4 linked regions of the Homo sapiens genome follow. The protein of the gene in region 2 interacts with the protein of the main gene of each other region in a biochemical or structural test. Each region holds a gene or a part of one and is shown on either strand. Other genes may lie near its edges. The genes, in order: SDCBP, FZD7, DVL1 and CCDC88C.

Evidence for each region.
Region 1: the proteins of FZD7 (region 2) and SDCBP interact in a biophysical measurement, tested with the Homo sapiens proteins (2 studies listed by IntAct, with this or other methods).
Region 3: the proteins of FZD7 (region 2) and DVL1 form a complex in vitro, tested with the Homo sapiens proteins (2 studies listed by BioGRID and IntAct, with this or other methods).
Region 4: the proteins of FZD7 (region 2) and CCDC88C form a complex in vitro, tested with the Homo sapiens proteins (one study listed by BioGRID).

Annotation. Positions count from the first base shown.
Region 1 is NC_000008.11:58,555,666-58,563,260, forward strand, and holds part of SDCBP (syntenin-1), read left to right. Parts: intron 1-4,618; exon of another isoform or gene 4,619-6,082; coding exon of another isoform or gene 6,083-6,130; intron 6,131-7,595. UniProt on the Homo sapiens protein: Multifunctional adapter protein involved in diverse array of functions including trafficking of transmembrane proteins, neuro and immunomodulation, exosome biogenesis, and tumorigenesis.
Region 2 is NC_000002.12:202,028,700-202,036,854, forward strand, and holds the start of FZD7 (frizzled-7 precursor), read left to right. Parts: upstream 1-5,155; 5' UTR 5,156-5,948; coding exon 5,949-7,673; 3' UTR 7,674-8,155. UniProt on the Homo sapiens protein: Receptor for Wnt proteins.
Region 3 is NC_000001.11:1,345,824-1,354,009, reverse strand, and holds the start of DVL1 (segment polarity protein dishevelled homolog DVL-1), read left to right. Parts: upstream 1-4,591; 5' UTR 4,592-4,944; coding exon 4,945-5,114; intron 5,115-8,186. Other genes in the region: MXRA8 (matrix remodeling-associated protein 8 isoform 1 precursor), read left to right, coding at 64-162, 678-709. UniProt on the Homo sapiens protein: Participates in Wnt signaling by binding to the cytoplasmic C-terminus of frizzled family members and transducing the Wnt signal to down-stream effectors. Plays a role both in canonical and non-canonical Wnt signaling.
Region 4 is NC_000014.9:91,414,226-91,421,990, forward strand, and holds the start of CCDC88C (protein Daple), read right to left. Parts: upstream 3,596-7,765; 5' UTR 3,466-3,595; coding exon 3,406-3,465; intron 3,378-3,405; exon of another isoform or gene 3,154-3,377; intron 2,614-3,153; coding exon 2,513-2,613; intron 1-2,512. UniProt on the Homo sapiens protein: Required for activation of guanine nucleotide-binding proteins (G-proteins) during non-canonical Wnt signaling. Binds to ligand-activated Wnt receptor FZD7, displacing DVL1 from the FZD7 receptor and leading to inhibition of canonical Wnt signaling.

The sequences.
Region 1 (7,595 bases), on a different chromosome or scaffold from region 2:
TAAATTGTGTTTCTAGACCTCATGTATGAGCCATCTGGAATGCTTACTATCTGGGTCCAATGGACACTTTATTTTTTCATTTTTTAGTTTTTTTTTTTTTTAGAGATGGAATCTTGCTCAGGCTGGTCTTGAACTCCTGGGCTGAAGCAGTCCTCCTGTCTCAGCCTCTGAAAGTGCTAGGATTACAGGCATGAGCCATACGGTTCCTGGCCTGATAATTTTATTTTTTACATTTTTCATTCATTTTATGAATAGTTTGCAGAAGTGAAATTAAAGACATAATGAAACACAACTTTACTAGAAATTTTAATAACTGCTTCAACAAATTATCACTCCAAATTTTCCTGGTTTTGAAGATATCAGTAGTTGAAATAGGCAACATCTTCGAATTCAACTAATTGCTTATCAACTGTCATATAATTTTTTAAAAAAATCAATGATTCTGCCGTCCTAAATTTTTATTATCCCAAGATGTTTTTAATACAGCGGTTCCCGACATTTTTGGCACCAGGGACTGGTTTCATGGAAGACAGTTTTTCCACGGACGGGATAGGTGGATGGCTTCAGGATGAAACTATATCACGAGGAGCGTTTAACCTAGATCCCTTGCATGCACAATTCACAATAGGGTTCCTGCTCCTGTGAGAATCTAATGCTGCCACTGATCTGACAGGAGCTGGAGCTCAGGTGGTAATGCTGGCTCACCTGCCACTCACCTGCTGTGGGTGGCCTGGTTCCCAATGGGCCACCGACTGGTACTGGTCCATGGCCCGGGGGTTGGGAACTCCTGTTTTAATAGCTTAGATTAAAAGAAGCAAATAAACATTATTTCACCTTAAACAGTCACATGTCATTTTTAAGGGAGGCCAGTTGTAGTTGGTGGTTTGAGAAGGGGTGAGGTTAATAACTCAGAAAATGATGAGTATTGCCATTCTAGGTGATATTATTTGGAAAACTTTGCCAGTGTTTCCTACTTCATTAATCAGAATATTGTGTCCAGAGAGCGAATAAACTAGAATTCCAAAATATCACATAAGTATTTAAGTTGAGGGCCTTCGTTCTGTACACATATTTAAAGACTTCAAGGAGGTTACTCTTATATTGCCCTGAGGGGGTTGAGGGACAAATGGGAAACTTGGTACTGAGGCAGACAATATATAAATACATATATATATAAAATGTATGTATTATATATAACATATATAATACATATATATTATAATACGTATAATACGTATTATAATATATTCTAATTATATATAATATATATTATTTATGAATAATATATAATGATTTATATATTATATATAACATAATATATATTGTATATCATACTATTATACTATATCTTATATACTATATTATAAGTATATAAGATATACTTATTATATACTATATTATATAGTATAGTATAGTATAATTTATACCATATATTATATATTATACTATTATATACAATATAGTATATATTATATACAATATTATAATATATAATTATAATGTATATTATAATATAATATAGTATTATTATATATTAATATTATATTATTTATATATTCCAGGAAAATGATATTAATTTTAATCAATATTTATATTTAAATATTTATATTTAAAATATTTATATTTAGATATTTATATTTAATTATATATAAATATAAAATATATAAATATAAATATATAAAATATATAGATATATAAAAATATATAAATATAAAAATATTTATATTTAAAATATAATAATATAATGTAATATAATATATATTATATATAATACATATAATACATATTATATAATACATATTATATATGTTATATATAATACATATGCACACACACACATATATAATATATATATAGCCTTTTGGTGTTCTGAAAAAGTCCGAAACTATCCCACCCACTGAAAGATCTCTTAATAGAAACTATTTGTGAGTTACTTCTGAGGCCTGAGATACATTGGGTGTAGGGGCCTTTCATAATGCATGAAGTGAGTCACAGAGATTGCAAATAATGTAGTGTGGGCCAAACCTGGTCAAAGGGTATGTGGGCAGTACCATTTCTTTCCAAGGAATTAGGCCAGTGGAAAAAAGCTGTAGTGGTCAGGAAGGTTTGATCAAACCCTTAAAGAGTAGTGGGAGTTTTATCTTCTTAGTGATTACTCAGCTCGAAGGAAAGCCTAGAAACAAAATTCTTTAGTTTAGTTCGTACAATAATAATGTTTGATAAGAGTTGCAAGTGAGGTAAAATGAGATTCTTCCACTGATGTAATAGTTACTTTCAGAATCCTCTTAAACCTCATTATTGGTCATTATAAAATTCCAGCCACAATTAGAAGGATTTCCCAGAGTTAGCTTTGTGGTTCTTGAAAAAGGGCTGTGTTTCTAACAGTTCCCATTAGGTCAAAGATTTAAATATAATGTACAAGTGACTTAATGGAGCCCTTCAGAAAAATAAAGCATTTATCATTTTCCTGGAAGGCTTTTTACACTGTTAGGTTCAAAAGTACGGACTTGCCCTAAGAATATTTTGATCTTTTCAATAAGTGTTTAAAGATATCTTATTTACTGTTGTTTTGATGACATTTGTCAAAATACTAACATTTGGTATCTTCTTTTTAAAAAGTTTTTTTTATTGGTGAGACAGGGTCTCAGTCTGTCCACCCAGGTTAGAATGTGGTGGTGTGACCACAGCTCACTGCAGCCTCAACCTCCTTTGCTCAAGTGGTCCTCCTACCTCAGCCTCCCAAGTAGCTAGGACTACAGGCATGTGCTGCTGTCCCTGGCTAGTTTTTTATATTTTTTGTAGAGATGGGGTTTCTCCATGTTGCCCAAGCTGGTCGCAAACTCCTGGGCTCAAGTGATCCACCTACCTTTTTCTCCCAAACTGTTGGGATTACAGGCACTGCGCCCAGCTACATTTGATATCTTTGAGGATGAGGAAAAAGTGTTTATGCTGTGTAAATAAACTAAATTGAGTCCTGCCTTCAAGTAGTGGAGATAAACATGTACTAGCTATAATCTGAGGCAGAGTTGAGAGGAGTTGGGAGGAGCAAATAATATCCAACTGAAGCCTTCAAAGTCACCCTCTTTTAAGAAGTGACACTTGACCTATGCCTCAAGGCTAACTAGGATTTTGATTGGTGGAGAAGTCCTGGAAGGACATTCCTGGAAGAGAATGCACCTTTTACAAAAATATGCAGGCATGGAAGCATGTGACCTGGGTGGCAAATAGTCAGTGGTTTGCAGCTACAACATTTTAATACGTGGAAAGAAATTTAATGAAATGGGTCAAGAAAGTAAAATTGAGGAATGCTTTGTGATTTAAAAAACAGTGAGAGTTAATTAAGATCAGTACACTTAAAGCAAACCTGAAACTTACTTTTTCAGAAGTGTAAATTACGGTAATATTTGTTATTTAAAAAAAATTTTGAAAGTCCATTTTTCTTCTAGGCTTGAGTTGCTGGTGTGTGAATTAACTCAAGAGTTGTTCAGACAACTTCAGTTAATATTTATTTGAAGAGAAACTTCTATGGAGAGAAAAGTTAGGAAACCACTTCATTTTTCATGAGAACAGTGGGATTTTGAAGTTAGCCAATGACAGAATCAAAAAAAGAAATCAAAAATAGAAATAATATTAGATGGCCAGGTAACATTCTTTTCAGTGCATTTTGGTTGTTGATATTGCAACTTGCTTTGCATTTTGTATATTATATATCATATGCATTTTGTTTATATTGATAGAATGGCTGAAAGTTTAAATAAGGCAAAAAATTGTGTTTAGGGAAAGGCTGCTAGGAAATTGATCCTTTGAACCCAAAGAAGATAATTCACTTTGTTCTCCTGGATTAATACAATTAAATCATATTTGATAGTGCTCTCTCAAGAATGTGAATTTTTTTTTTTTTCTCACAAACCCAGATTCTGTTTTTCCCTTAAGGACTGTACCAGGCCACTACTATTCACCATTGTACTGGAGATTATAGCCAGAGAAATTAGAAAAGAAACAAAAGATGTGTAATAGCAGCAAGAAGGTGCAATAGAAAGCTCATATGCTTCTTCTCCCCACAGAAATACTGATTCAATAACAATACACACACCAGACCTCTTTGTGAGAAATCCGGAAACTAGTTAAGAGGCTCCTGCATTCTAGGTGAGCAGTAAACCAGCTGCAGTGAAGATGGTAGGAAAATTCATCCTACTTGCTCACCATAGTTCATTCCCCTGGCTCAGCATGGCATGAGCAAGAGGAAACTCCAGGCTCCTGGTTTTTCCCTGGGCGGGGAAAGAGAAGACTGAAACATCTGTGTGACATTCAGATTTTTCAGAGGTCTGCCCAAGGGTCTGGTTTTTATTTTGCTTGAATATAAGTTCTGACAGGAAAGGGCACCAGGTTGCGGGGTCATTGAAAACAAAGTTGACAGTTTAGATTAGCAGGCACTCACCATGGTCCCTCCCCCTCCCTCAGCATGAAACCAGCAGGAGAAAATCCTCAACTCTTGGCTTCTCCTTGGGGAGACAAAAGAGTTGGAATGTGTGTCCAGTGTTTCACCTTTTCAGTGGGCTGAGGGACTGGCTTCTGTCTTGCTTGTCTTGGAAAGCTGACAGGGGCTGGTGTATTCCAGGTGCCCAGGAGCCACTGAGAACAGAAGACTTGTTGCTGCTCTAGAGGACCTATGGTAGGGCAGACAGAGGATGATACAGCTCAGCAGCTTGTCCCTACGTGTGGCATGAAAGGTGTTGGAGAGAGAATAGTGGAGTATGTGTCCAACATTCCAGCACTTCAGAGAGCTACCCCCAAGGGACTGGCTTCTGTTTCACCTGACTTGGAGCACAGGCAGGAGTGGACATACTCTAAAAGCCCACTGATGGGAAAGGGCACCAGGTTGGAGGCCTCTGAAAACAAGAGAGCTGGGTGGCTTGCAGCAGCTCCAGAGAACCTGAAGTACCACAGACAGATAGCACAGGGAGCAAAAGATTATGAGATCCTGAAAAAGGAAACGAACAAGTTCATCTTGAGAATTTATACACACTGGTCGAGAAGAAGCATCCTCAGGAAAGGTTCAAAAGGCATGCAGAATCTCTAGTCAGGCCGATCAGTGAGGATCTTTCTCTGTACAGAGCCAGACCACAAAGACTGGGAGGGGTGATATTTTTTCAAATGCTTGGATCCCAACATGATGTTAAAAGACACACAAAGAAATAGGGAAACATGGCACAATCAAAGAGTCAAAATATCCAGGAACCTACTTTAAGGAAACACAGATATCTTCATTATCTCAGAAGGAATTCAGACTAACCACCATAAACATGTTCAGTGACCCAAGGAAAATGCTGCATGAACAAAATGGTATCAACATAGAGATTGAAAACGTAAAAAGGAACCAAACAAACATTGTAACAGATGCAATATGCTTCTTTGACCAAATTGAAAGATTTACTAGAGGAGTTTAGCAGCAGTGTTTTTCAAGGAGAAGAATTAGTGAACTTGAAGCCAGGTCATTTGAAATTATCCAGTCAGAGAAGCAAAAAGAAAAAAAATAAAAAAAGAATGAAGACAGCCTAGAGTACTAATGGGACAGCATCAATTTTATCAATGTAGATTGTATGGAAGTTCCATATGTTGGAAAGAGAAAGGAGCAAAAAGCTTATTTGAAGAAATACTGGCCAAAACTTCCCAAACTGAAGGAAGGCAGTGGACATCCAGATTCAAGAAGCCAAATGGACTCCAGAGTAGAACAATCCGAAGACATCTACATGGAAACACACTGTAATCAAATTGTCAAAGAATTTTGAAAGCAGCAGGATAAGAACAACTTGTCATATACAAAGGAGATTCTGTGGGACTCTAAGTGGATTTCTTAGCAGAAACCTTGCAGGTCAGAAAGAAGTGGGATGATATAGTCAAACTGCTGGAAGAAAAACTGCCAGCAAAGTACTGTATGTGGCAAAACTTTTCTTTAAAAGTAAAAGAGAAATAAGATTCTCAAAATCTGAGAGAGTTCATCACCACTATATCTGACTTAAACGCCAATGGGAGTCTGTTAAATGGAAACAAAAGTATGTTCAACATGAAAGTATAAAATTAAATGATAAAGCTATGGACAAATAGAGACCTGCATATTATTGTAATGGTGGTGAGTAAATCACTTATTTCTGATATATAAGTCTAAGACAAAAGTTTAAGTGCCTGTAACTATAAAAATATTAATAGATGCACAACATAAAAGATGAAATTTGTAGCATCAGTAATGCAGTATGGGGATGGATGAGAAGAAGCAGTATTGTATGCAGTTGAAATTATCAGCTTAAAATAGGTTTATTAGAAGATGTTTTATGTAAACTCCATGGTAACCACAAAGAAAATACCTATAGAAAATACACACACACAAATAAGGAATCAAAGCATATCTATTAAAAAAAAAAACAGTGAAACAAAAAGCATGATGGCAAGAGAGGAAAGGAAGGACAAAAAAGTTTCAAGATAGAAAATCATTAACAAAATGTCATTGTAAGTCCTTCCCTATCAGTAATAACTTTAAATGTACTAAACTCTCCAATCAAAAGACATAGAGGGGATGAATGGATTAAAAAAATAAAACCAAGAGCCAGCTATACCCAGTTTATAAGAGACTCACTTCAGATTTAAGGATACTTTTTATTTTTTTACAGAAATGGATATACTGATTCTAAAACTGATACTGAATTGATAGGGATTTAGAATAGCCAAAACAATTTCGAAAAAGAACAAAGTGGGAGGATTCACATTAACTGATTTTAAAACTTAATACAAATGTACAGTACTCAAGAATGTGTGGTACTGGTATAAGGATAGACATATAGATCAGTGAAATAGAATTGAGATTGCAGAAATAAGTGCATACAGTTATGATCACTTTTCAATAACGATGCGAAGACAATTCAAAAATGTTATTTTCAAAAAATGGTGCTGAAATAACTGGGTTTCCACATGGATAATAATGAATATGGATCTATACCACACACCGTGTACAAAATTAACATAAAATAGATCAAAGATATAAATGCAGGAATTAAAGACATAACATTTTTTGAAGAAAACATAAGGGTAAGTCTTCATAACCTTGAGTTGGGCAGTAGTTTCTTAGATGTTATATCTAAAGCATAAGCAACCAAGAAGAAATATAGATTCAAATTTGTCAGAATTAAAAACCTCATATTGCAAAATGCACTGTGAGAAAAAATGAAAAGACAATCTACAGAATAAGAAAAGTATTTGTAAATCATATATGATAGTGGTCTATGATATGGTCTGAATGTTTGTGACTGTGTCCCTCCATTCATATGTTGAATCCTGTAATCATCAAGGGGATGGTATTAGAGTTACCATATGACCCAGCAGTTGCATGCTTAGCTATATTCCAAGAGAATTAAAGATGCATTTATTAAAAAAGTATATAAACTTACATATTATTTGCTAACAATGCAAATGCTCATTGGCATTTTTAACAGCATTATTTATAATAGCCAAAAGTGCAAATAACCCAAATGTCATCAGCTGATGACAGCATAAATATAATGTGGTATACATACAATGGAATATTATTCTGCTATGAAAATGAA
Region 2 (8,155 bases):
AGAGTCGATTGTTAAACATTTACCAGCATACCACTATAAAAAATTACAACCTCGGCCGGGCGCGGTGGCTCACGCCTGTAATCCCAGCACTTTGGGAGGCCGAGGCAGGCGGATCACGAGGTCAGGAGATCGAGACCATCCTGGCTAACACGGTGAAACCCCGTCTCTACTGAAAATACAAAAAATTAGCCGGGCGTGGTGGCGGGCACCTGTAATCCCAGCTACTTGGGAGGCTGAGGCAGGAGAATGGCGTGAACCCGGGAGGCGGAGCTTGCAGTGAGCAGAGATCGCGCCACTGCACTCCAGCCTGGGCGAAAGAGCAAGACTCTGTCTCAAAAAAAAAAAAAAAAAAAAAATTACAACCTCAGCAAAGAGCCAAAGCCCCAAAATATGCAGCTAACTTGGCCTTTTATTTGATCCCTAAGATTTGTATCCATATAACTAGACCAGGATTCTGCCCTGATGATTTTTTGCCTATGGATCACACAGCATTTCGTAAATATTACCTCACAAATTCTCCCAACATCCTGGGGGAGCAAGAGATGTTAAGTGACTTGCCTGAGGCAGGACAAGAAATCAATAGTGAAAGGCAGAACTAAACCAGTCTGTATCAACCACCTCTGCAATCCTTCCTAGACATCAGTACTGTGCAGACCCACATTGGAGACATGGGTAGCAATTACCAAAGGTGCTTTTTACATCATAACCCAGATACCCGAAGTCGCTTTCTACAGACTATGGTCCATATGCTCTGACCTTTGAGTACAGATTTGACTCCCCAGAATGGCCAGCGCTCTACATTTGGACATTTTTTCCAGAACTGTTCATGGTCTTTTATTAATCAACTTCCTCCATGTTTTCTCTCCCAGGGACATGTGTTTGGAAAACTGGTTGGCCAGAGTTAGGGTTCTGTTCTGACTCTAACATCTGCAAGTGGCAACATAACCAGTCAACACTGTATTTTTATCTGTGACCCTTTCTCTGGACTCCCCAAGGACAGAGCTCCAAGAGTCGTTTCTCTCTGTTGCCTCATCTTCATAATACTCTGGAAATGAATAAATGAATAATCCTTGTAGTAAGCAGCCTCTCAAATGGCTCCCTATGATCCCCCAATGGTTTTGCACACTCTATGTATAATCCCTGCTACCCCTTGAGTGTGGGAAGATCTGGTGACTTGCTTCTAGTGAATAGTATATGGCAAAAGTGGTAGGATGTCACTTCCCAGATTAGGTTACAGAAAGACTGTGACTTCTATCTTGATCGTCATTTTTTCCTGCTCTCTCTCTCTCCCTCCTTCTTTCCCTCCCTCTCTCAGAGGGAGAGACTCTCTGAGCCTTTGCTGTGAGGGAAGCAAGGTGCCATATTACGAGTGGCCTTATGAGAGGTCCACATTGCAAGGAACTGATGTCTCTGGCCAACAGCTAGTGACAGCCTGAGGCCTGCCAACAGCCACATGAGTGAGCTTGGAAGTGGCTCCTCCAATTGAGCCTTGAGGCCATCACAGCCCTGATCAACACCCTGATTATACAATAGTCAACGTATAAAACTCTCAACTAGCCCAGTGTGGTGACGCTCACCTGTAGTCCCAGCTTTTCTGGAAGCTGAGGTAGAAGGATCACTTAAGACCAGGAGTTCGAGGCTGCAGTGAGCTATGATCACTCTACCTCACTCCAGCCTGAGTGGCAGGGTGAGATTCTGTCTCAAAAAACAAAAACAGAAACACAAAAACCCCTCTCAATCGACAAGGGAAGTGTTGGTCAGACTCAGTGACTGAATTTACCATATAAATCATCTCTACAAGATGCGGCCTGCACATCTAACATGATTATTGCATGGTCCTCCTCTTCTGCAACTTAGATATCTCTAACTTTCATAACCCTTGAAAGGGTTTTAGGGATAAGAATATCCCCATTTTTGGAATGATCCAACACCCCAACAAAAATGAACACAAGTCAATGACAACCTGACAACTGGAAATTCCAAGTTCTCCATGTTATTACGTCAAAATTGTCTAGTAAAAGAGAGGCCAGAAAGGAAAGCATGTGCTAAAATTTGCCCTTTCTAGTCTTGCATGAGTAATTCTTGCAGCAGGAGCTTCATTACAACCGCAGGACTGGGGCACACGAAGACGGCCATTTTCAAATCTGGCCTGACATCAGAATGTAATTCAACTAGATAAACCTGGGACTTGGCCAAAATAAGTAGCATTTGCAAAACTGGAGCCAATGAATAGCATCACTTTTCTGTGGGACCATATGACTACATGTGAAGAAATAAAGGCCTTTGTTATTTTAAAGGGCAGGGACAATTGGAAATTTTGCAGCAGATAGTCACAAAATTTTCCACCCTTGGCTCTCCCAAGAAGATACCAGTTAGTGGCTTTGGGAGTTGGGTGTGGAAGGGGTTGCTTAGGAAGCAAAATTAAAATGATCCTGGACAGAATATAAACAGATGTCACTACATTTGTCATAGAACCTAAAACATGATTAGACCCTTACATTGTGAACTTACTTTTTCTGATCTTCTATGACTTGGCTCCTTAAAATCATAGCATTCTATACCAGGCAAGGCTTGGAAAGCCAGAGCTCCCCCTCTCACAGCAAATTCTTATTTTGGAGAATAATTTTGGATTGATTTTTTAAAAATCTTTAAAAACAAAACAATCTGTTTTAAAAATTGGCTTTGCTTCTCTGCTTTTTGGACTTGTCTGCCTGGGACAGAGCAAGAGGACTCACATCTGTAACACTTTCCATCTGGGATGGGTTTTCTGCATCTTAGGCATAGACTGCTTTTCATTCGTCCCTTGTATTTAAGGGTTTTTTTTTTCTAAATTATTATCCCTATTGCCTAACATCGGAGCTGTCTGGGGTTATAATATGGAGAGTAGAAGCTCATCAGCTAAATTGGTTTTAGTTGCAGTTGAGACAGTATTTTATCCTGTCAGTTTTCATTTTATTTGATGACAGTGCTTGGTATTTCTTCCTCAATAAGCAAAGATGACTTAGATCAGTGGCCTGATGAATAAGCATGAAATTTTGATTTAGAAAAGGAGGATATCCTGAAGCTCATGGAGAGAAAAAAGGAATCTAACCCCCCACCACACATACTTTAAATGACAAAGCAAAGCAGCAGCATTGTCTTTAAGCAACATATTTCAACCGAAGATCAACACTCCCCGATGTTAGGTAATAGAAATAATAATTTAGAAAGAAAAGGGGGGCCCTTTTAAAAACACAAAGAAGGAATGAAACATTTTTAAAGCAGGTATCGTATTACCTTCAGCACATGTCCCAAAGAAAAGGAAAAAAAGGGTGGGGGGGTCCGGGAGGGAGGGCGAAACTGATGCTTGGGAGGAAGAAGGCGACTCCCGCTGAGGGCCGGATGGAGGATGTGATCAGTCTAACACTCTGCCTTGGCCCAAAGGCTTCCTTCCGCCCTTTCGACCTATTAACAGGAGTGGGGAAGGACAAAGAACCGTGAATCGGAAAGAACGATTCCCAGCAATCTTCAGTGATCGAAAATAAATAAAGAAAAACAGAGAAAGCCAAAGTCTCCCATGGAAGGGAACCCAATTAATTGTCTTCGATTTCAGAATGAGTTTTTTTCCTGCTGTAGAAGAAGCGCACGGGAGGCAGCAGAGACAGCAACTTCTGCCAAGGTTCAACCTGATCAGAAATCGCTCAGAGCTCCAGCACCCGGGACTGAGGCAGAAGGGCTCCGCCAGGAATAACGTTTTTTAAAGCACAGGATTGCTGTGTGTGTGTGTGTGTGTGTGTGTGTGTGAGAGAGAGAGAGAGAGAGACAGAGGAAAGAGGAGGAGGAGGAGAGATTGATTGATTGATTTTTTTCTTTTCCTTCTCAACATGTCACTTTCCTGCATGGGAATTCCTGATATTCCTGGCAGCCCGGAGAGAGGGGAGAGGCCCCCTGGTGACTTATGACCCCCGCAGGAGTAACCAGAGAGCGCGCGCGAGCGCCCAGCGCCTGGCTCAAGACGAAGATTTAACCGAGAACAAAAGAACGTTTGCCAATCAGAAAACGCTACCCGAGAACGAGGATAACCCCGCTTTGTGTTTTGAAAACTCTTTAATTAGCCTGGTTTCTAAGACGCATTAAAACATTCCTACGCAGATTCTAAATGGAGGATCAAATGGTTGCTTCTGCAACGAAGATGGGATCCCGAAAGGGCACACGCCGCAGAACCAAGGCACACGGGGCCACTGAGACGCCCGGCGCGTCGTACAGAGTGTTCCTGGGCGCTCGGTCTCAGGTTACTTCTAGAACCAGTCTCCCCAACGCCGTCTTCGTTTCCTTAAAACCTCGCTAGAGTCACCCCAGTTCCCCAGACTCCAGGCCGTGCGCGCGGGCGGGGTGGCCTGAGCCCGGGTTCCCCGCTCTCCCTGCTTCGGGCCCTTCCTCCGAGGGGTCCTTCCTCCCGCCGTCACTCGGCCCCCTCCGCCCGACTCGGGTTTCTCCTCGGAGGCGGCCCCTCCTCCTTTTTATAACTCGGGGGAGGGGAGAGGGGACTGTGGCCTCGCGTGGACTCTTTGGGTCCGGGGGGAAAGAGGCGATCCGCAAGGCGCACCCCCTTCTCGTCCCGTCCCAAACCCCACATTGAGGACCCGGCGACCCGAAAGCCCCGCCAGAGCCAGCCTTTGCAGTCCTAACGCGACTCCTGGTCACGTCTCTCCCCGAAGGGGCGCTGCGCGGTCCTCGCTCCCCTCAAACGCCGCTGGCGAAGGCGCCCCTGCTCAGGAATGCGCATCTGAGTGCACCAGGAAGAGGAACAAATCTTTGAAGCAAATTCCCTTTCTGCGCGTTTTCGTCCCTGAGCGAATTCAGGGTAAAAGTTTTTCCGAACTTTTCCCTCCCAGTCCCCCGCCCCTCCCCTCAGGAATCCGCCCAGAGCGCCGCGGACACCGCCTCCGCCACTCCCGCGCCCGCCCCTTCCGACTTCCGCCCAATCCGAAGGCGGCCACCGAAAAAACAAAGGCCGCCATTGGGCCGCCGGGGCCTGGGGCCGCCCCCGGAGTGGTTTGTGAATGGGGGGGGAGGGGAGGGGAGGGGAGGGGACGGGAGGGGACGGGAGGGGGCGGGCCGGCCCGGAACCCCGCGAGCCCGACGCTTCTTCTGGCGACCAGCGCGACTCCGAGGCGTTAGTCGGCGCTCACTCCCGGCGGGCGGCGGCGGCGGCGGCGGCGGCGGGCGCCAGGACTCGCTGCTGGGGCTGCGAGGGGCTGGAGGGGCCGGGGCCAGGCCGCGGGCACGAGCGCCTCGCGGTTTCGGACGCAGTGTGACTGGGTTTCCAAAAAGAACTCGCCGTGCTCCCGACTCCGGGGCCGAGATCGGACTCAGCAAGAGCCGGCCGTTTGGCTGAAACTTGGGGCCGAGCTTTTGGGGCTGAAGAAGGAGCGGGGTGTGGAGGAGGAGGCGAAGGAGGCGGCGACGAGCGGAGCCTCGAGGCCAGGAGGCGGGGCAGCACCGCGGAGGCGGCGGCCGGGGCGAGCGAGCGGCGGCGGCAGGGGTTCTCCTAGCGGGGACCGGACCAGGCGCGGGGGGCGTGCGCGCTGCGGTGCGCCGGGGGTCCAGAGTCTTGGGCAAACTTTGAAGGGTGCCGGAGCCGCTTGTTGCTCCTCGCGGCGGAGGGAGCCGCACCGTTACGTCCCCGCGGGGAGAGCGAGGCGGCCCTCCTCGGCGCCCCCAACCCAGGCTGACGAGTTTTGGGCCCCCGGCGGCCCTGCGAGTGCAGGGCGGCGGCGTCTGCGGCGCCTTCGCGGCGCGGGCACCCAGGCGGCAGCGCCCTTTGCTCCACGCCGCCCACGGCCCGGCCCCGGCGCCGTGAGGACTCTCATGCGTCGGGCGCGGCGGCGCCTCCCCGCATCCAAGCCTCTCCCAACCGCCTCGTCGCACTCCTCAGGCTGAGAGCACCGCTGCACTCGCGGCCGGCGATGCGGGACCCCGGCGCGGCCGCTCCGCTTTCGTCCCTGGGCCTCTGTGCCCTGGTGCTGGCGCTGCTGGGCGCACTGTCCGCGGGCGCCGGGGCGCAGCCGTACCACGGAGAGAAGGGCATCTCCGTGCCGGACCACGGCTTCTGCCAGCCCATCTCCATCCCGCTGTGCACGGACATCGCCTACAACCAGACCATCCTGCCCAACCTGCTGGGCCACACGAACCAAGAGGACGCGGGCCTCGAGGTGCACCAGTTCTACCCGCTGGTGAAGGTGCAGTGTTCTCCCGAACTCCGCTTTTTCTTATGCTCCATGTATGCGCCCGTGTGCACCGTGCTCGATCAGGCCATCCCGCCGTGTCGTTCTCTGTGCGAGCGCGCCCGCCAGGGCTGCGAGGCGCTCATGAACAAGTTCGGCTTCCAGTGGCCCGAGCGGCTGCGCTGCGAGAACTTCCCGGTGCACGGTGCGGGCGAGATCTGCGTGGGCCAGAACACGTCGGACGGCTCCGGGGGCCCAGGCGGCGGCCCCACTGCCTACCCTACCGCGCCCTACCTGCCGGACCTGCCCTTCACCGCGCTGCCCCCGGGGGCCTCAGATGGCAGGGGGCGTCCCGCCTTCCCCTTCTCATGCCCCCGTCAGCTCAAGGTGCCCCCGTACCTGGGCTACCGCTTCCTGGGTGAGCGCGATTGTGGCGCCCCGTGCGAACCGGGCCGTGCCAACGGCCTGATGTACTTTAAGGAGGAGGAGAGGCGCTTCGCCCGCCTCTGGGTGGGCGTGTGGTCCGTGCTGTGCTGCGCCTCGACGCTCTTTACCGTTCTCACCTACCTGGTGGACATGCGGCGCTTCAGCTACCCAGAGCGGCCCATCATCTTCCTGTCGGGCTGCTACTTCATGGTGGCCGTGGCGCACGTGGCCGGCTTCCTTCTAGAGGACCGCGCCGTGTGCGTGGAGCGCTTCTCGGACGATGGCTACCGCACGGTGGCGCAGGGCACCAAGAAGGAGGGCTGCACCATCCTCTTCATGGTGCTCTACTTCTTCGGCATGGCCAGCTCCATCTGGTGGGTCATTCTGTCTCTCACTTGGTTCCTGGCGGCCGGCATGAAGTGGGGCCACGAGGCCATCGAGGCCAACTCGCAGTACTTCCACCTGGCCGCGTGGGCCGTGCCCGCCGTCAAGACCATCACTATCCTGGCCATGGGCCAGGTAGACGGGGACCTGCTGAGCGGGGTGTGCTACGTTGGCCTCTCCAGTGTGGACGCGCTGCGGGGCTTCGTGCTGGCGCCTCTGTTCGTCTACCTCTTCATAGGCACGTCCTTCTTGCTGGCCGGCTTCGTGTCCCTCTTCCGTATCCGCACCATCATGAAACACGACGGCACCAAGACCGAGAAGCTGGAGAAGCTCATGGTGCGCATCGGCGTCTTCAGCGTGCTCTACACAGTGCCCGCCACCATCGTCCTGGCCTGCTACTTCTACGAGCAGGCCTTCCGCGAGCACTGGGAGCGCACCTGGCTCCTGCAGACGTGCAAGAGCTATGCCGTGCCCTGCCCGCCCGGCCACTTCCCGCCCATGAGCCCCGACTTCACCGTCTTCATGATCAAGTACCTGATGACCATGATCGTCGGCATCACCACTGGCTTCTGGATCTGGTCGGGCAAGACCCTGCAGTCGTGGCGCCGCTTCTACCACAGACTTAGCCACAGCAGCAAGGGGGAGACTGCGGTATGAGCCCCGGCCCCTCCCCACCTTTCCCACCCCAGCCCTCTTGCAAGAGGAGAGGCACGGTAGGGAAAAGAACTGCTGGGTGGGGGCCTGTTTCTGTAACTTTCTCCCCCTCTACTGAGAAGTGACCTGGAAGTGAGAAGTTCTTTGCAGATTTGGGGCGAGGGGTGATTTGGAAAAGAAGACCTGGGTGGAAAGCGGTTTGGATGAAAAGATTTCAGGCAAAGACTTGCAGGAAGATGATGATAACGGCGATGTGAATCGTCAAAGGTACGGGCCAGCTTGTGCCTAATAGAAGGTTGAGACCAGCAGAGACTGCTGTGAGTTTCTCCCGGCTCCGAGGCTGAACGGGGACTGTGAGCGATCCCCCTGCTGCAGGGCGAGTGGCCTGTCCAGACCCCTGTGAGGCCCCGGGAAAGGTACAGCCCTGTCTGCGGTGGCTGCTTTGTTGGAAAGAGGGAGGGCCTCCTGCGGTGTGCTTGTCAAGC
Region 3 (8,186 bases), on a different chromosome or scaffold from region 2:
GAGGGCACAGGCGCGGCTCCCAGTCCCGGGCTGGGAAGTGCATCCTGGGAGCGGGGACCTCAGCCTCCTCTCCTCCCACAGATTACAAAAACAACATCCTGAAGGAGAGGGCGGAGCTGGCCCACAGCCCCCTGCCTGCCAAGTACATCGACCTAGACAAAGGTGAGCGGCGGGGGCGACCTCAGCCCATCTCAGAGCCCTGCCTGTCCCCATTCCACCTCACCTGGGACCAACGATGGCAGGCACCAGCCAGGCCCGGGGCCCCTGCCACCTCAGGCTCAGAAATCCCTGGGGAGTCCTGCGGGGGGGTCTGCCCTGTGTCTCCCACTGTGATGAGGGTGGAGGACAGCCGCCAACCCGTTGGCGCCCTTGGCTTCCAGGGTTCCGGAAGGAGAACTGCAAATAGGGAGGCCCTGGGCTCCTGGCTGGGCCAGCAGCTGCACCTCTCCTGTCTGTGCTCCTCGGGGCATCTCCTGATGCTCCGGGGCTCACCCCCCTTCCAGCGGCTGGTCCCGCTTTCCTGGAATTTGGCCTGGGCGTATGCAGAGGCCGCCTCCACACCCCTCTCCCAGGGGCTTGGTGGCAGCATAGCCCCCACCCCTGCGGCCTTTGCTCACGGGTGGCCCTGCCCACCCCTGGCACAACCAAAATCCCACTGATGCCCATCATGCCCTCAGACCCTTCTGGGCTCTGCCCGCTGGGGGCCTGAAGACATTCCTGGAGGACACTCCCATCAGAACCTGGCAGCCCCAAAACTGGGGTCAGCCTCAGGGCAGGAGTCCCACTCCTCCAGGGCTCTGCTCGTCGGGGGCTGGGAGATGTTCCTGGAGGAGGACACTCCCATCAGAACTTGGCAGCCTTGAAGTTGGGGTCAGCCTCGGCAGGAGTCCCACTCCTCCTGGGGTGCTGCCTGCCACCGAGAGCTCCCCCACCTGTACCACCATGTGGGACTCCAGGCACCATCTGTTCTCCCCAGGGACCTGCTGACTTGAATGCCAGCCCTTGCTCCTCTGTGTTGCTTTGGGCCACCTGGGGCTGCACCCCTTGCCCTTTCTCTGCCCCATCCCTACCCTAGCCTTGCTCTCAGCCACCTTGATAGTCACTGGGCTCCCTGTGACTTCTGACCCTGACACCCCTCCCTTGGACTCTGCCTGGGCTGGAGTCTAGGGCTGGGGCTACATTTGGCTTCTGTACTGGCTGAGGACAGGGGAGGGAGTGAAGTTGGTTTGGGGTGGCCTGTGTTGCCACTCTCAGCACCCCACATTTGCATCTGCTGGTGGACCTGCCACCATCACAATAAAGTCCCCATCTGATTTTTAGACTTGTCCCAGGTATGCTTCTGAAACTCCGTCTCCTGGGGCTGGGCAAGGCATGAGTCTGGGCCTGGGAGTCCTCGTCTCCACCTGGAACCCCTGACATCATCCCATTCCTTGGGCTGAAAGGTCTGGGTCTGGGTCCTCTGGGAGTCGGTGTCCTGGGAAGGGGACCTTTGAGCTAGTTCTGTGTGGCTTCTGGTCGTGGAGGAGTTCAGATTCCCTTGAGGGCTGACCTGGACGTGAGGAGGGGGGACGTGGTGGTGGCTGTGAGGCCAGAGGGAAGGCCGTGGGAGCACAGCTCTTGGAGAGGCAGAGGGACGAGGAGCGGGAGTAGTGGGATGCGGGTCAGACACTTGCAAAGGGGGCGGGAGCAAAGAGGCTCCAGCAGAGACAGCCCGGGACAGCAGGGTGGTTCCAAGAGTCTTGGCCAGGCCAGCACGGATCTGGCCCTAGAATCCTTTCCCGCTCAGGCATCAGCTGGTTGGGTGCAGGATCTCAGCACAAGTTCAGGCGGTGGGAGGAGTGGCGGGAGCAGGAAGGCCCGTGGCCCGGGGTCCTGGCAGCACAGACCAGCGACTAACTGCTGCTTCTTGAAGCTGGCGTCACCACCCAACCCCATCCTCCAGTCCTCCCAGGACAGTGGGGGTGGGAAAGGGTGACAGTTGCCCACAAGGACCCCACACAAGCATGGATGGGGAGGGAGGGAGGCTGGTCTGGGGAGGTGTGGCTTGAAGATGCACCCCCCTCCCAGCCCGGTTACCTCTGGCCTCACCAGTGGCCACACCTGTCAGGGCCCCAGCTGGACCACATCCGCGTCAGCAACGGGACTGGCCTCAGGCCTCTGGCTTCCAGCCTCTCTTGAGACCTAGCCTGGGGTCAGGCCCTCAGGGCAGGGACAGGCTTCCTCCCTCCCTGGGGCCTCAACAGATAGCCCCTCTTAGGTCTTCCTGCCTGGCTTCTGACCTCTGGGGAAGAGAAGGGCTGCGGGAAGGTGGAGGGGGCTGGCGGCTAAGCTGTCCGGGCTTGGCTGAGCAAACGCCACAGTTCTCCCTCTCAGAGCCCGGGTGCAGGGTCAGGATCCCAGGCCCAAGCTGACCGTCAAGCACTGGTGCCTGCACTGATCGGTTTCTTTCCGAGCCGGTGCAGCCCCCAGCACGGTCAGGGCCCGATAGATGCCAGTTCCATCTCGCCGGCTTCCTGGGGACGGGAACCAAGGGACCCCACCGCACTCTCTTCCCCATCGCTCCAGCCCCGTCCAGGCCCCCTCCTCACTCCCCCCGTCGCTCCTGCCCCGTCCAGGCCCCCTCCTCACTCCCCCCGTCGCTCCTGCCCCGTCCAGGCCCCCTCCTCACTCCCCCCGTCGCTCCTGCCCCGTCCAGGCCCCCTCCTCACTCCCCCCGTCGCTCCTGCCCGGTCCAGGCCCCCTCCTCACTCCCCCCGTCGCTCCTGCCCCGTCCAGGCCCCCTCCTCACTCCCCCCGTCGCTCCTGCCCCGTCCAGGCCCCCTCCTCACTCCCCCCGTCGCTCCAGCCCCGTCCAGGCCCCCTCCTCACTCCCCCCGTCGCTCCTGCCCCGTCCAGGCCCCCTCCTCACTCCCCCCGTCGCTCCTGCCCCGTCCAGGCCCCCTCCTCACTCCCCCCGTCGCTCCTGCCCGGTCCAGGCCCCCTCCTCACTCCCCCCGTCGCTCCTGCCCGGTCCAGGCCCCCTCCTCACTCCCCCCGTCGCTCCTGCCCCGTCCAGGCCCCCTCCTCACTCCCCCCGTCGCTCCTGCCCCGTCCAGGCCCCCTCCTCACTCCCCCCGTCGCTCCTGCCCCGTCCAGGCCCCCTCCTCACTCCCCCCGTCGCTCCTGCCCCGTCCAGGCCCCCTCCTCACTCCCCCCGTCGCTCCTGCCCGGTCCAGGCCCCCTCCTCACTCCCCCCGTCGCTCCTGCCCCGTCCAGGCCCCCTCCTCACTCCCCCCGTCGCTCCTGCCCCGTCCAGGCCCCCTCCTCACTCCCCCCGTCGCTCCTGCCCCGTCCAGGCCCCCTCCTCACTCCCCCCGTCGCTCCTGCCCCGTCCAGGCCCCCTCCTCACTCCCCCCGTCGCTCCTGCCCCGTCCAGGCCCCCTCCTCACTCCCCCCGTCGCTCCTGCCCCGTCCAGGCCCCCTCCTCACTCCCCCCGTCGCTCCTGCCCCGTCCAGGCCCCCTCCTCACTCCCCCCGTCGCTCCTGCCCCGTCCAGGCCCCCTCCTCACTCCCCCCGTCGCTCCTGCCCGGTCCAGGCCCCCTCCTCACTCCCCCCGTCGCTCCTGCCCGGTCCAGGCCCCCTCCTCACTCCCCCCGTCGCTCCAGCCCCGTCCAGGCCCCCTCCTCACTCCCCCCGTCGCTCCTGCCCCGTCCAGGCCCCCTCCTCACTCCCCCCGTCGCTCCTGCCCCGTCCAGGCCCCCTCCTCACTCCCCCCGTCGCTCCTGCCCCGTCCAGGCCCCCTCCTCACTCCCCCCGTCGCTCCTGCCCCGTCCAGGCCCCCTCCTCACTCCCCCCGTCGCTCCTGCCCCGTCCAGGCCCCCTCCTCACTCCCCCCGTCGCTCCTGCCCCGTCCAGGCCCCCTCCTCACTCCCCCCGTCGCTCCTGCCCCGTCCAGGCCCCCTCCTCACTCCCCCCGTCGCTCCTGCCCCGTCCAGGCCCCCTCCTCACTCCCCCCGTCGCTCCTGCCCCGTCCAGGCCCCCTCCTCACTCCTCCCATCCTGGGCCGCCCTCTAGTGGCCTCCGCGCTTCCTGCTGGGGTCGGGTCGGGAAGGCCTCCAGCCCCGCGAGCCCCGGAACAGTAAGCGCGGACGCCCCGCGGCCTCAAGGGACGCCTCGGAAGTCTCCCCTGCCCTGCGGAGAACCCCAGGACTAAATCCCTCCCGCCGCCGGGCGCTCCGACGCCTCCGTGCACGCCCGCGCCCCCGCGCGCCCCGCATCCGCTCGGCCTGCTGCCTGGACCCCGTGGGACCCGGCAGAGGGCACGCGAGTCGGGAGCCTTCGCGGTGGCGCAGAGCGACCGGGCGCCACCTCAGCGCCGCGCACCCGGCGTCCCCGGGGTCCCTCCGCCCGACCCGAGCGCCCCGGCGCCCACGGGCCCACAGCCAGCGGCGCGCGTCGCATGCGCCGGATCATAATGGAGCGCGGGCCCGCGCGCGGGGGCGGGGCCGGGGCGGGGCGGGGCGAGCGATGATCGCCTGCGTCTGCGCATCCTCGCCCCGCCCCCGCCGTGCGCCCCCGTGACGTCAACGCCGCGCGCTCGGGCGCCCCCCCGCGGCCACGCTCAGGACCCCGGGCCGGGCGGTCCCTTTAACGGCGCGGCCCGAGGGGCGCAGGCGGGAGGGCGGCGGGGCTGAGCGCGCCCTCCGTGCTGCGTCCCTCGCGCCGCTCCCGGGCCGGGGGCGGATGGGCGGCCGCGGGCCGCGGGGCAGCAGTCGGGACGCGCGCGGGAGCCGGGGGCGGCGGCCGGGGCCTGGGCGGTCGGGCGGGGGCGCCCGGGGGCCTCGGAGCGTCGGGGCCGAGAGCGGTGCGGGCCGGGCGGGGCGCAGGCGGGCGGGCGGGTAGCGCCCCGCGTCCGAGCCCCGGGCCGGGCCCTGAGCGCGCGGGCTCCGCGCCGCCGCCGCGCCATGGCGGAGACCAAGATTATCTACCACATGGACGAGGAGGAGACGCCGTACCTGGTCAAGCTGCCCGTGGCCCCCGAGCGCGTCACGCTGGCCGACTTCAAGAACGTGCTCAGCAACCGGCCCGTGCACGCCTACAAATTCTTCTTTAAGTCCATGGACCAGGACTTCGGGTCAGTCGGCCGCGAGGCCTGCGCGAGCCTGGCGCGGGCTCGGGGGTCGCACCTGCCCGCGCGGGGACGGGGCGGGGGTCCTGAGCCGTTCGCGCCCCCGGGGACCTGCGACCGCGACGCGCCTCCGCTAGATGCGGCGCGGGTGGCGGCCTCGGCCCGTGTGCGGCGCGCGCCCACCTGTCCGTGGAGCGGGGCGATGGCAGGCGGGGTTCCCGGCGTCCCTGGCCCCAGCTTCCCGGCCCCGAGTCCTGCCTTGGCCCGTGTCAGACTCGGTCGGCCGCATCGCTTCCACCGGGGCTGGCCGGGAGCGCCTGCCGTTGGTGCGGGCTGGGGTCAGGGGCGTGTCAGTGGGAAGGAAGCAGGGTGGGGTTCCCTAGCTGGGATGGGGAGACATGGGGGTACAGGTTCACCAACCTGTCTGCTAGGGTTTGCAGAAGCTTCCCGAGGGTCAAGACAGGTTCTCCTGGCCCCCTTCTGCAGGGTCCTTGTGACAGGGTGGAGGTCAAGGGCCACTGGTGACCATGAAACTTTATTCGCCTACCCGTGTCCTGAGCTTCCTGTGGGCCCCGTCCCCACTGAGCCACAAAGCACTTGCGTTCCCGGAGCAGCCCAGACCATCTGCTGTTTCGGGGCAGCCTGGGTCAGCGTCTCCCTGCTGGGCCTCGGTGGTGGTGTCCCAGGCGAGGAGACCCCTGCTGTGCTGAGCTGGGCCCTCTGGGACAGGGAGCAGGAGCCTGGCGGTCTGCTTGAGGCCTGGCCTGGCCCGGCCCAGCCACCAGTAACCTGAGTCCCTAGTCCCAGCTCAACAGTGCTGGGGGCGGGCTCAGGCCTCGTGGCCCCAGGAGGTGAGCCTCCGGCAAGCGGTGTCCTTGTGTGTGGCCGCTTCTTGGGATTGTGACATTAAGGTTGTTTCTTGGATTCTGTGGTTGCAGGGTCCTCAGGCAGCCCCAGGTCCAGTCAGGCTGGGTCCGCTCTGGAGCTCTCAGGGGGGCCCAAGGGACATCTAGACAGCTGTACTTTCCTTCCCCACCCCCACGACCAGGCAAAGCAGAGAGGGCAGGGTGCGTCCTTGGCAGCCTTTGAAGGCTGGGCGCTCCCCACTCGGCTCAGCGGCCCTCCTGCCCGCTCCGGTCAGGTTGGGCAGGAGGGGGCGGTTTGTTTTCTGAGTCTGGTCCGGGCTCCTCCCCAGCTGGGGCACCTTGCAGTCCCTGCTTCTCTGGGCCTGGGCTGCTTTGGCCTTGAGCATGGGGCATGTGTCAGGTACTTTTGTTTTTGACTTAGTTTATTATTCTAACGAAAGTTACCAAAGTTACTAATGCTGTTTGTTGCAAATGTGTGCCACCAGGAAATGCGTAGTGAGGAGGTGCCCAGCCCCCAGGTTCTGCTCCTGGACCATGCTCTGGGATGAAGCCCTGGGGGAGTCCGCCTTCTGCTCCTGACACCCACCGGGGGCTGCCCAGGGCAGAGACAGCCTGACTGTTGCCCTAGTGCACTTCTAGCAGTGGCTGCACCTGCTGGGCACATTTGGAGGACGCGTGGGTGCCCGGGCCTGGGAACAGGGTGGGCAGGTCTGGGTGTCGAGGCAGGCTTGGGGATGCGGCCAGGAAAGAGACAGGGGAGCTTCAGTGTACAGCTTTGGAGGCTGCAGACTTACAGGGGGCTGGGAGTCAGTGGGGCTGCAGAGGTCAGGGCTGGGCTGGGCTGGGCTGTGGGGGTTGGAAAGAATGGACTGGGGTGATGCTGGAGGTCCAAGACGAGGGCCTTGCTCTGTAGCCTCCCAGGTCCTCTGGCTGGGATGGGGGCCTTGCTCTGTGTCCTCCCTGGTCCTCTGGCTGGTGGCCTCAGGAGCCTACGGAGGACCCTCATCAATTACTTCCTTCATCCCTTCCCCTGAGTTCTACCCGCAGACCTCTCAGCACTGTCTGTTCTGTGGAATAGAACCCCCGTGGGAGGGGCTGGTTGGTCAGTAATACTTTAGCTTAAGCGACTGCTGAACTAGACACTGACCCTGGATGCCAAGCGAATGTAGTTGGAGATGGGGGGAAGAGAAGGCAGGTCCTCGCTGGTCTGGGGTGGCCTTCATAAGAGAGGGAGCTTCAGGCTGGGGACGCTGAGGAGGCCCTGGTGAGTCGGGGGTTCCTGCGCCAGCCCCCGCTGCATTCTCAGCCCAGCCCTGGTTCCCCAGCCTCTGCTCCAGAGCATGACTGACCACCTTGCAGTGCAGGGAGCCTGTGTCATGGCCACAACCACGTGCCCTGGTCTGGACCCCACTCCCCACGCACGGCTTTGGCCCAGTGGGTGAAGGTCCCCCGCCTGTCCTCCACTTTTCATGCCCTGGTCACAGCTATTCTGACCCAAGATCCCCAGGGCTGGGAGGAGGGCAGAATTGGGGAGGGTCTCTGCCTGGTGCTGGGTTTGGTGGTTGGCAGGGGGTCTCGCCCAGCCTTGGGCCGAGGCAGAGGAGGGAGGGTGTTTGGCTCCGGGTCCCCACTGCTGGGTGCGTGGCGGATGCTGGGCCTGCTGGACTTGGCACCGAGGCTGTCTGTTGGGCACAGCTCCCACAGTTCATCTCCGAGGTGGGGGTGACCCAGGCCTGGGACTGGGGGATGGGTGGAGGCAAGGCTGTGGGCCCAAAGCCCTGGTCCCCAGGGCCGCCTGCCATGGGCCTCGGTGTTGTGACAGCTCCTTGTGTCCTGGGTGGTGCTGTGGGGAGCTATGGAGTTGGGGAGGCTCTGCCTGGCCTGGGCTGTGGGGGGAGTTCCCACTCCGCCCTCCCTGGCTGTGCCACTTGGGGTCTGTGACTCAGCCTCTCTGTGCCCTGAGTGCCTCCCTGGTTTTGGGAGGGTCCAGGCAGTTCACCTACTGCACTCATAGCCATGGCCTAGCAGGGACACTTGAGCCTGTGTGTCCTGAACCGGGGGAGGGGCACAGAGAGATCCCAGGACTCGGCACCACCCAGGGGACAGGCTGGTGGAGAGCCCCTGGCTCTGGGGTCAGGGGTTGGGAGGCCACAGACCCCCAAGGCTGAGGGCCCTGACCTGGGGCGTGCACAGGGGGCTCTGAGGGCACAGG
Region 4 (7,765 bases), on a different chromosome or scaffold from region 2:
ATAGCTAAATGTTAACACAAGGTTTCATTCTGTCCTCACAACCATCTCTTAAGGAAGGTACTTTACGTCCCATTTTACAGATGAGGAAACTAAGGCACTGAGCGACATGCCCAGTGTCACACTGCTGGTAAAAGGGAGGCCAAGGGTTTGAATCCCAGCTGGCTATGTAGGCTGTCCGATACAGGCCAGGGTTCATTGTTTAGTTGAGGTAATTTTACATAGCATGAAATGCATAAAGTTATAATTTGAGGAGTTTTGGAAAATGAAACATACTCCAGCCACTCTGCAGGACATTTCAACTACCCTGAAAAGGTTCCCCCGGGTCCTTTCCAGTCAATCCTCACCACTTCCAGACACAAAAACACTATTCTGACTTCTATCACCTGGAACTGGGTGATTCTGATGACCCATGCAGGAAACCATGCCCACCCGCTCTCTCTTCTCTTTCCTCATTCTGGAAAGCCAGCCATTCAGCCTCCCCACGCTCCATTCCTCTGTGCCCAACTCATCCTGAGGGACCCAGAAGCACTTCTTGAAGTCTTAAGAGCTACAATTTACCAGTTCCCACTTCTGGAATGATTACCTTGGCATATCACAGAGAGAACATCTAAAATTGCCCAGGGAAGGGGAGAAACCCTCCCACCCCACACCACCCCGGCCGAATTTAGCCATGGGCCAAATGAGAACAAGTGATGAGCTGGCGTTTCTCAAAGGAACGGTCCAACAGGCTTTCCTGATTTACAAGCAAGTGGGAAACGCTTCAGGAATTCCAAAGGTCAGGGAAGAAAGAGAAACAGTCCCAGTGCTTTTGTTCCCCCCTCTGCCTGGGTGTAGGAGCTGAATGAAAAGGCTGGGGATACTGCTGGTTTTTTTAATTAAACAGTCTTGGGCTTGGGTAAGGACAGGTTGAAGTTTCACCGGTCATTGCGCCAATGGAATCCAGTAATTTTCAGGGTCTAACAGAATGAGGGGAGAGTGGCCAGAACTCGAATATGCCACGAGACAGCTTCCGGAAAACTCAGTTTCAACAAAGTTATCTAAGAAGTGCTGTCAAAGCTGGCAACAGATTTATGTTTTTCAATCTAATCAGACACTGAAGACTGGTAAGATTGGTAGTGACTTTTTTTCCTACACCCACAGCTGTGAACTTTAAAAAAAAAAAAGCAAAAACCATTAAACAGCATGACATCAAATGACTTATTAAAATAAAAGGAGGCCGGGCACCACAGTGGCTCATGCCTGTAATCCCAGCACTTTGGGAGGCCAAGGCAGGCGGATCACCTGAGGTCGGGAGTTCGAGACCAGCCTAACATGGAGAAACCCCATTTCTACTAAAAATACAAAATTAGCCGGGCGTGGTGGCGCATGCCTGCAATCCCAGCTACTCGGGAGGCTGAGGTAGGATAATCGCTTGAACCCGGGAGGCGGAGGTTGTGGTGAGCTGAGATCACGCCATTGCACTCCAGCCTGGGCAACAAGAGCGAAACTCCGTCTCCAAAAAAAAAAAAAGCAAGGTTCTTGAATTATTTTTTTCTAAACAGGCTGTTTAAGGCAATCTATATAAGCCACTTTCTGGATATGCCAAAGCAAACTGCTCCTCTGCCTTTGTGAGCCACAAACGAAGCTGATCTCTCATTAGCTAATAGATTTATGCTCCAGTATGACAACTTGCTCAGTCGTAGGTGAATAGGTGCGCACACGAGGCTGATCCACAGAGAACATTAGGATGTTTTATTTTGCTTCAAGTGCCTGTGAATCATCCCGACACTCAGTTCCAATGTTCCCTGCAGTTTGAGTTAAAAACAGAATGCAAAGGTAGAAGCCAACACCTACGTTGTGGCAAGCTGTCAATCAGGCCGTGCAGAGCTCAGCAACAGGAAAGGATGTGGTCAGATGTACTCGCTGGCAAGAGTAACTTCTACTAAGACCCTGTTCAGGCTGCATGCTTCCAAACAAACAGCACCATGGGACCCTCCTAACACTGTGACTTTAAACTCAGTCCATACAGTAGGACTTAATGAATTGCACTTGCTTTGGGGCAACTGAAAAAGGAAGATGAAATGTAAAGGAGCTCAGAAACACAGACACCCTCATCTAAAATGAAACTTTACAGTAACCCTCGGATGCCTGGGCCCACCCCGACACTTCCTGTAACCAGACACTCTCCGTTACAGTTCCTTGCCCTCCAAAAGGGGACTTTTTCATTTCATTGCTCAAACCACAATTAAGTCCTTGAGTCTGAAGTCAATTGCACTATCTACACCACGTAAATGACAGTCATTCAATTCCAAATTTCCTTCATCAAACCAACTGCCAGACCCACTGTCCTGGAGTTCTTCAAACACCTACGAATGTCCAACAGGCACGTTAATACTGAGATACCAGCGTCTCCACCTTCAGAGAACTACCCCCCACCCCACACACACCCCGCCATGCAACCTTCCACTCCATTTCTACTCTCAAACTTTCTAACGCACCATTCTTTCCTTCCTCCGAGAAGAAGGTAACTTACATTTGCAGCATAATTTGGTTCAAAAAGATGCCGTCCACTAAATCCATGTACATAGTCAGGTTGTCCTGGCTGCCGCTTCCAAACGGGCCAAAAGTTTTCACCTGCGGGGAGGGGGACGAGGAGAGAAAGACAGGAAGTCACCCCGTGCGCACAAACGGTCCAAAGCTCTCCCAGGCAGAGACTGGACGGGTCAGTGTGAGCAGAAGGGGGTCACCCACGCCCACACCACCCTTCAGCAGGCACCAAGCCCGGCCTTCTCCTAGGGCCTGTCTCCCCTCCCCGCGCGGGGCAACAGACACGAGACAGGAGGAAAAACTTCCTCGCCACTTTTCTCCCGCGTTCCAGAGCGGAAGAAATAAAAATAAAAAGGACTTTTCAATAAATGTCTCACGTCTCAAATCCATTGTAAATCAGTGCGCCCACCCCAGTCTGTTCGCTTTCCCATTCGGCGCCCCCCATTCCCCACCCGTCACCGCCATCCACCGGCTGGTCTCAGGGATTCAGAAAAACTACATGAGATATTTGGTTGGGAAGAATGGGGTCCTTTTCGGGAGTGGCTAAACCCCAGGGACAGGAGTGACCACTGGGACCCGGTCCGCCCCGAGGCAGCCAGCCTAGAGCCCCAGCGGGAACAGGTGTACCCGCCCGGCTCCTGGCCCGGCCGAAAGCGCGGCGGGGTCCCGCGCCGGACGCACAACGGGGGCGCCGGCTCCAGAGTTACAAAGCTCCGGACTCCAGGACGCGGCCCCAACCCCGGCCGGGAGCCACTTGCTGCGTCCCTCGCGCCCCGGAGCCACCCGGGGCCCCGGCCGTGTCGGGTCTGCGGCGTCCCGTCGCCGGGCTAGAGAGAAGCCGGTGCACCAACAAAGGGGCGGGGAGCCAGGCGCACTCACCCAGGTCACCAGCGGGCTCTGCAGGAAGAGCTCCAGGAGCTCCGAGACTGTCACGTCCATGCTGAGGCTGCGCCCGCCGGCTCCGCGCCCCCCGCCCCGCGTCCCCGTTCCCCCGCGCCGCGGCACAAAACGGCTCCGCAGCGAGCAGCGGGCGCGGGGCTGCGGCGGCTCGCGCCCGGGAGACAAAGGCGGGGCGCGCGAGCCCACGTTCCGCGGCTTCGGCGGCCCCGCGCCCCGCCCGGGTCTGGGGGAAGGGGAGGGCCAGCCGCTCGGGGAGGAACAATACGGGCGGCCCCGCCCCTCGGCGGCCCTGGGCGACCGGCGCGCCGCCTCGCGGTGCCAGCCCGGGAGCCCGGGAGCCCGGGCGCGGGACCAGGCTACGCGGGGCGCTGGGAGGGGACTGGTGGCCCGAGGCGGGTGGGTCGCGGGGCCCGGCTCCCCGCCCGTGGGACCGCGCGCCCTCGCCGAGCGCAGCCTCCCCGCGTGTGGGGCCCCAGCACGTGGCGCATCCCTGCGCGCGTGCGCGTGCAGCCGGGGCCCGAGCGCCACGTGCGAGCTGGGGTGCGCGGGCACTGGTGCGTGCCGGGAGCGGGGACGCCCTGCCCTCCGAGGTTGCTCTGCCCTCCGAGGTCGCCCGCAGCTGCCGCCCGCTCTGGGCTTGGGGACCTCGGCCCTGCGCCTTTCCGCACTCCTGGCAGGTGCAGCCCCAGGTACAGTCAAGAGGCCCCGCAAACCCCCGCTCCTCACGCTTGTGCGCGGCGCGATAAACGCGCCCCGACCCTGGGGCTGGGCTGGAGGGCAAAGAAGAAACTTTATGTTGAGTTTAGGCCTTAGGGGCGCGGCCCCTCGCGCCCTACCGTGCCCCACCGTGCCATGTTCCGGGCTGCCTGCCTTCTAAAAGTTCCTGCAGGAAGCAGGTGATGTGGCCTCCCCGACCCGGGCCCGCCCCCACCACTTTGCCGGAGGCGAGCTAAATTCCAGCCGGGGTTCCTAGCAGCAGCTTAGTGGCAGGCGACAGGAAAAAGGGCAAAGGCCCCAACTGGCTGGAAGGCAAGCCCGGGGGCAGGACCTCCTTGCGGGACGGCACGAGGCAGGAGCCGGCTCCAGGCTGGTCTCGGCCTGGTAATAATTTCACACCACCAGCCGGTCATTGTTCAAAGCACTGTAGACCATTTTACTAATTTAACCCTAACGATCGCCGCATTTCGCAGCTGGGCCAACTGGTACAGGGTTGACCCGAAGGGCCCTGCGTGGCGCTTGGCAAGTATACAGCAGGCACTAAATGGCTGCCGACAGGCTCGGTGGTAATTTTGAAAGTTGGCTCTGTGCAGCGTTGGGGCTGCGGCATCTGCTGGTGGCGAGTGGTATTACAGCCCAGCGCTGGCGGACCCCGTTGGGCTGGGGAGGGTTGTGAGATTATGGCCTGAGAGCCAAGGGGGTCGGTTAGGGGTCCCTAGAGACTGTGGAAGGCGGGGTAGCATAAAACACAATGGGGGACTGCGGAGGAACTAAAATTTCGAGACTACATGGTTTTGTTGTGCACCAGAAGTTCATTAGAGAAGTTCCTTAATTGCTTCTCCGCCCGCCGCGATGGCACTCGACCCCGCGGATTAATTTAACAACTCTGATGGTTGCTCTGTGAAATTTAAAGAACAGTGGTTTAAGCAAAGACCACAAGAAAGAAGAATTGAGATCAAAGAGGAGTGTGTGCCATCGCTGTGGAGGAGTTTCAGTTGTGAATCATGAAATGTCCTGTAAACCATTTCAAGGAGTTTGATTTTTATACCAAAAACAATGGGAAGACACTACAGGTTTTTGGAGCAGCAGCTCAGACGTGTCGAAAAAGATGTTTTGATCCCTAAAATAATGAGAGAAAAGGCCAGAGAGAGGTCTTCTGACAAGTTCAAGATTTTACCAAATGTTGCAAGAACTCTGGAATCCTTATGGTAGTAAAATGCTGGAAAGAAAATTCTGCATTGAAAGAATGTCTTAACAGCTCACTATAATGACCCAGCCTTTTATGAATAATGCAAAGTGGAAAACCTGAAGGAAAAGGAAGAATTCAGAAAAACTGGAATTTCTACAAAGAAAAGTCTACAGAAGCTGCCCACAAGTGTGTAGACAAATATTCAGATGACATTCAGGATCTCTAATACTCATGGAAGTCGTTTATAGAATAAACCTTAAATAATGGACTCAAGAATGTGTGTTTGCTAATTATGTGTGTATCCTAATTATGGAAATATTAATTTTATCTGAAATAAAAATCTTTTTTTCTTTTCTCTTTTTTTTTTTTTTTTTTTTTTTTGAGACAACAGAGTCTCACTCTGTTGCCCAGGCTGGAGTGCAGTGGCGTGCTCTCTGCTCACTGCAACTCCGCCTCCCGGGTTCGCGCCATTCTCCTGCCTCAGCCTCCAGAGTAGTTGGGACTGCAGGCGCCCACCACCACGCCCGGCTAATTTTTTGTATTTTTTACTAGAGACGGGGTTTCACCGTGTTAGCCAGGATGGTCTCTATCTCCTGACCTCGTGATCCGCCTGCCTCGGCCTCCCAAAGTGCTGGGATTACAGGCGTGAGCCACCGCGCCCGGCTAAAAATCTTTTATTTAAAAAAGTTCCTTAATTGCTCATAATGTAAGTTAGTTCAAAAATAGGTATGATGTGTACACACACCGCTCTTCGCTCGGAAGCCTCTCTTCTGAAAAGTAAGGGATGCAGATGCGGCCAAAGTTGTTTTTCCAATTTTTTTGGAAAGACAAGGATGAGGAATCTTTAAAGTTATTTATTGAGGCCGGGTGCAGTGCCTCACACCTGTAATCCCAGCACTTTGGGAGGCCTAAGTAGGTGGATCACTTCAGCCCAAGAGTTCAAGACCAGCCTGGCCAAAAAAAATAGAAAAATTAGCTGGGTGTGGTGGTGCACACCTGTGATCCCAGCTACTCTGGAGGCTGAGAATCACTCGAACCCGGGAGGGGAAGGTTGCAGTGAGCTGCTATTGCACCATTGCACTCCAGCCTGGGTGACAGAGCAAGACTCTGTCTCAAAAAAAAAAATTTATTGAGTAAGCTTATTCTTTCACACTAAGAAATACAGTGGACAAATGCCTTCTGACAGTTGTGAGACTTTTCCCATCCTGGTGAGGGAATTTTCCCCTGGGGACATTGACAAGGCCCTGGGCCACAGCCATGTCAGGAATGTTTGCTTTGGGGTCAGTTAGCTGCTGTGTTGGTTCATAATCATTGATGTATCTGCTACCATGCCTTGGCTTGACTACGCCACCAGGATTAAAAGGATCTAACTCAGCTCCCTTGTTCCCTAGGAGGCAATGGGGCAGGCAAACTGGATGGTGCCCCAGGTGTAGCAAGCTTGGAAGGCTTCAAAGGACGGGACAAGTTTGGCCTGGACAAGTTTCCTCCTAGAAGTCACTTAATCTGCAAAATCAAGATAAGACCATTTTCCCCATGTGACTTGACAAGACAATATTAAAGCTCAAGGTGATGCATGTAAAAAGATTGTGGAAGCCATAAAGCTTTATAGAGATACATAATCACTGTCTCTTCCTCATCTCCTGCCCCATTCTGCTACCCTTGCTTTAATAAAAATTGTTTCCCCGAAGTCTCCGTCGGGCTGGGGCATAAGCTTCAAGGAGCAAATGCACAGACCCTCCACTGACCACTACACAGAGAGTCCCAATGCCCCTCCTCCATCCTTCCAGAACACCCTTGGCTTTCACTCCATCCATCTGAGCCTTAACTCTTTATTTTTAAGTTTTTCCTTGTTAATCTCTGGATATAAATGTATCTATTGCTTAATACATTGCTTCCTGGGTAGAAGCAGTATTTTGTGTTCTTCTGATAAAGGAATTTTCTACCCTCTCAGAAAATACTGACTCAGCAGTGTTAGCTAATGGCATTTCTACTTCACCTGATAGGAGCAGGAGCTTAAATTGTTACTACAACTTGGGGTGGGGAGAGGGAATGGCTATTTTTTTTTTTTTTCGAGACTGAGTCTTGCTCTGTCACCCAGGCTGGAGTGCAGTGGCGCAATCTTGGCTCACTGCAACCTCTGTCTCCCAGGGGTCAAGCTATCTCAGCTCACTACCATGCCGAGCTAATTTTTGTATTTTTAGTAGAGACAAGGTTTCGCCATGTTGGCCAGGCGGTTCTCAAACTCCTGACCTCAGGTGATCTGCCCGCCTCGGCCTCACAAAGTGCTGAGATTACAGGTGTGAGCCACTATGGCTGGCCACAAAATACTATATTCTATGATAGTTTTATATTCTGTCACAGATCTGACATTTTGGAACGTTCTTTTATTTACTTTATTTATTTATTTATTTATTTATTTTTGAGACAGAGTCT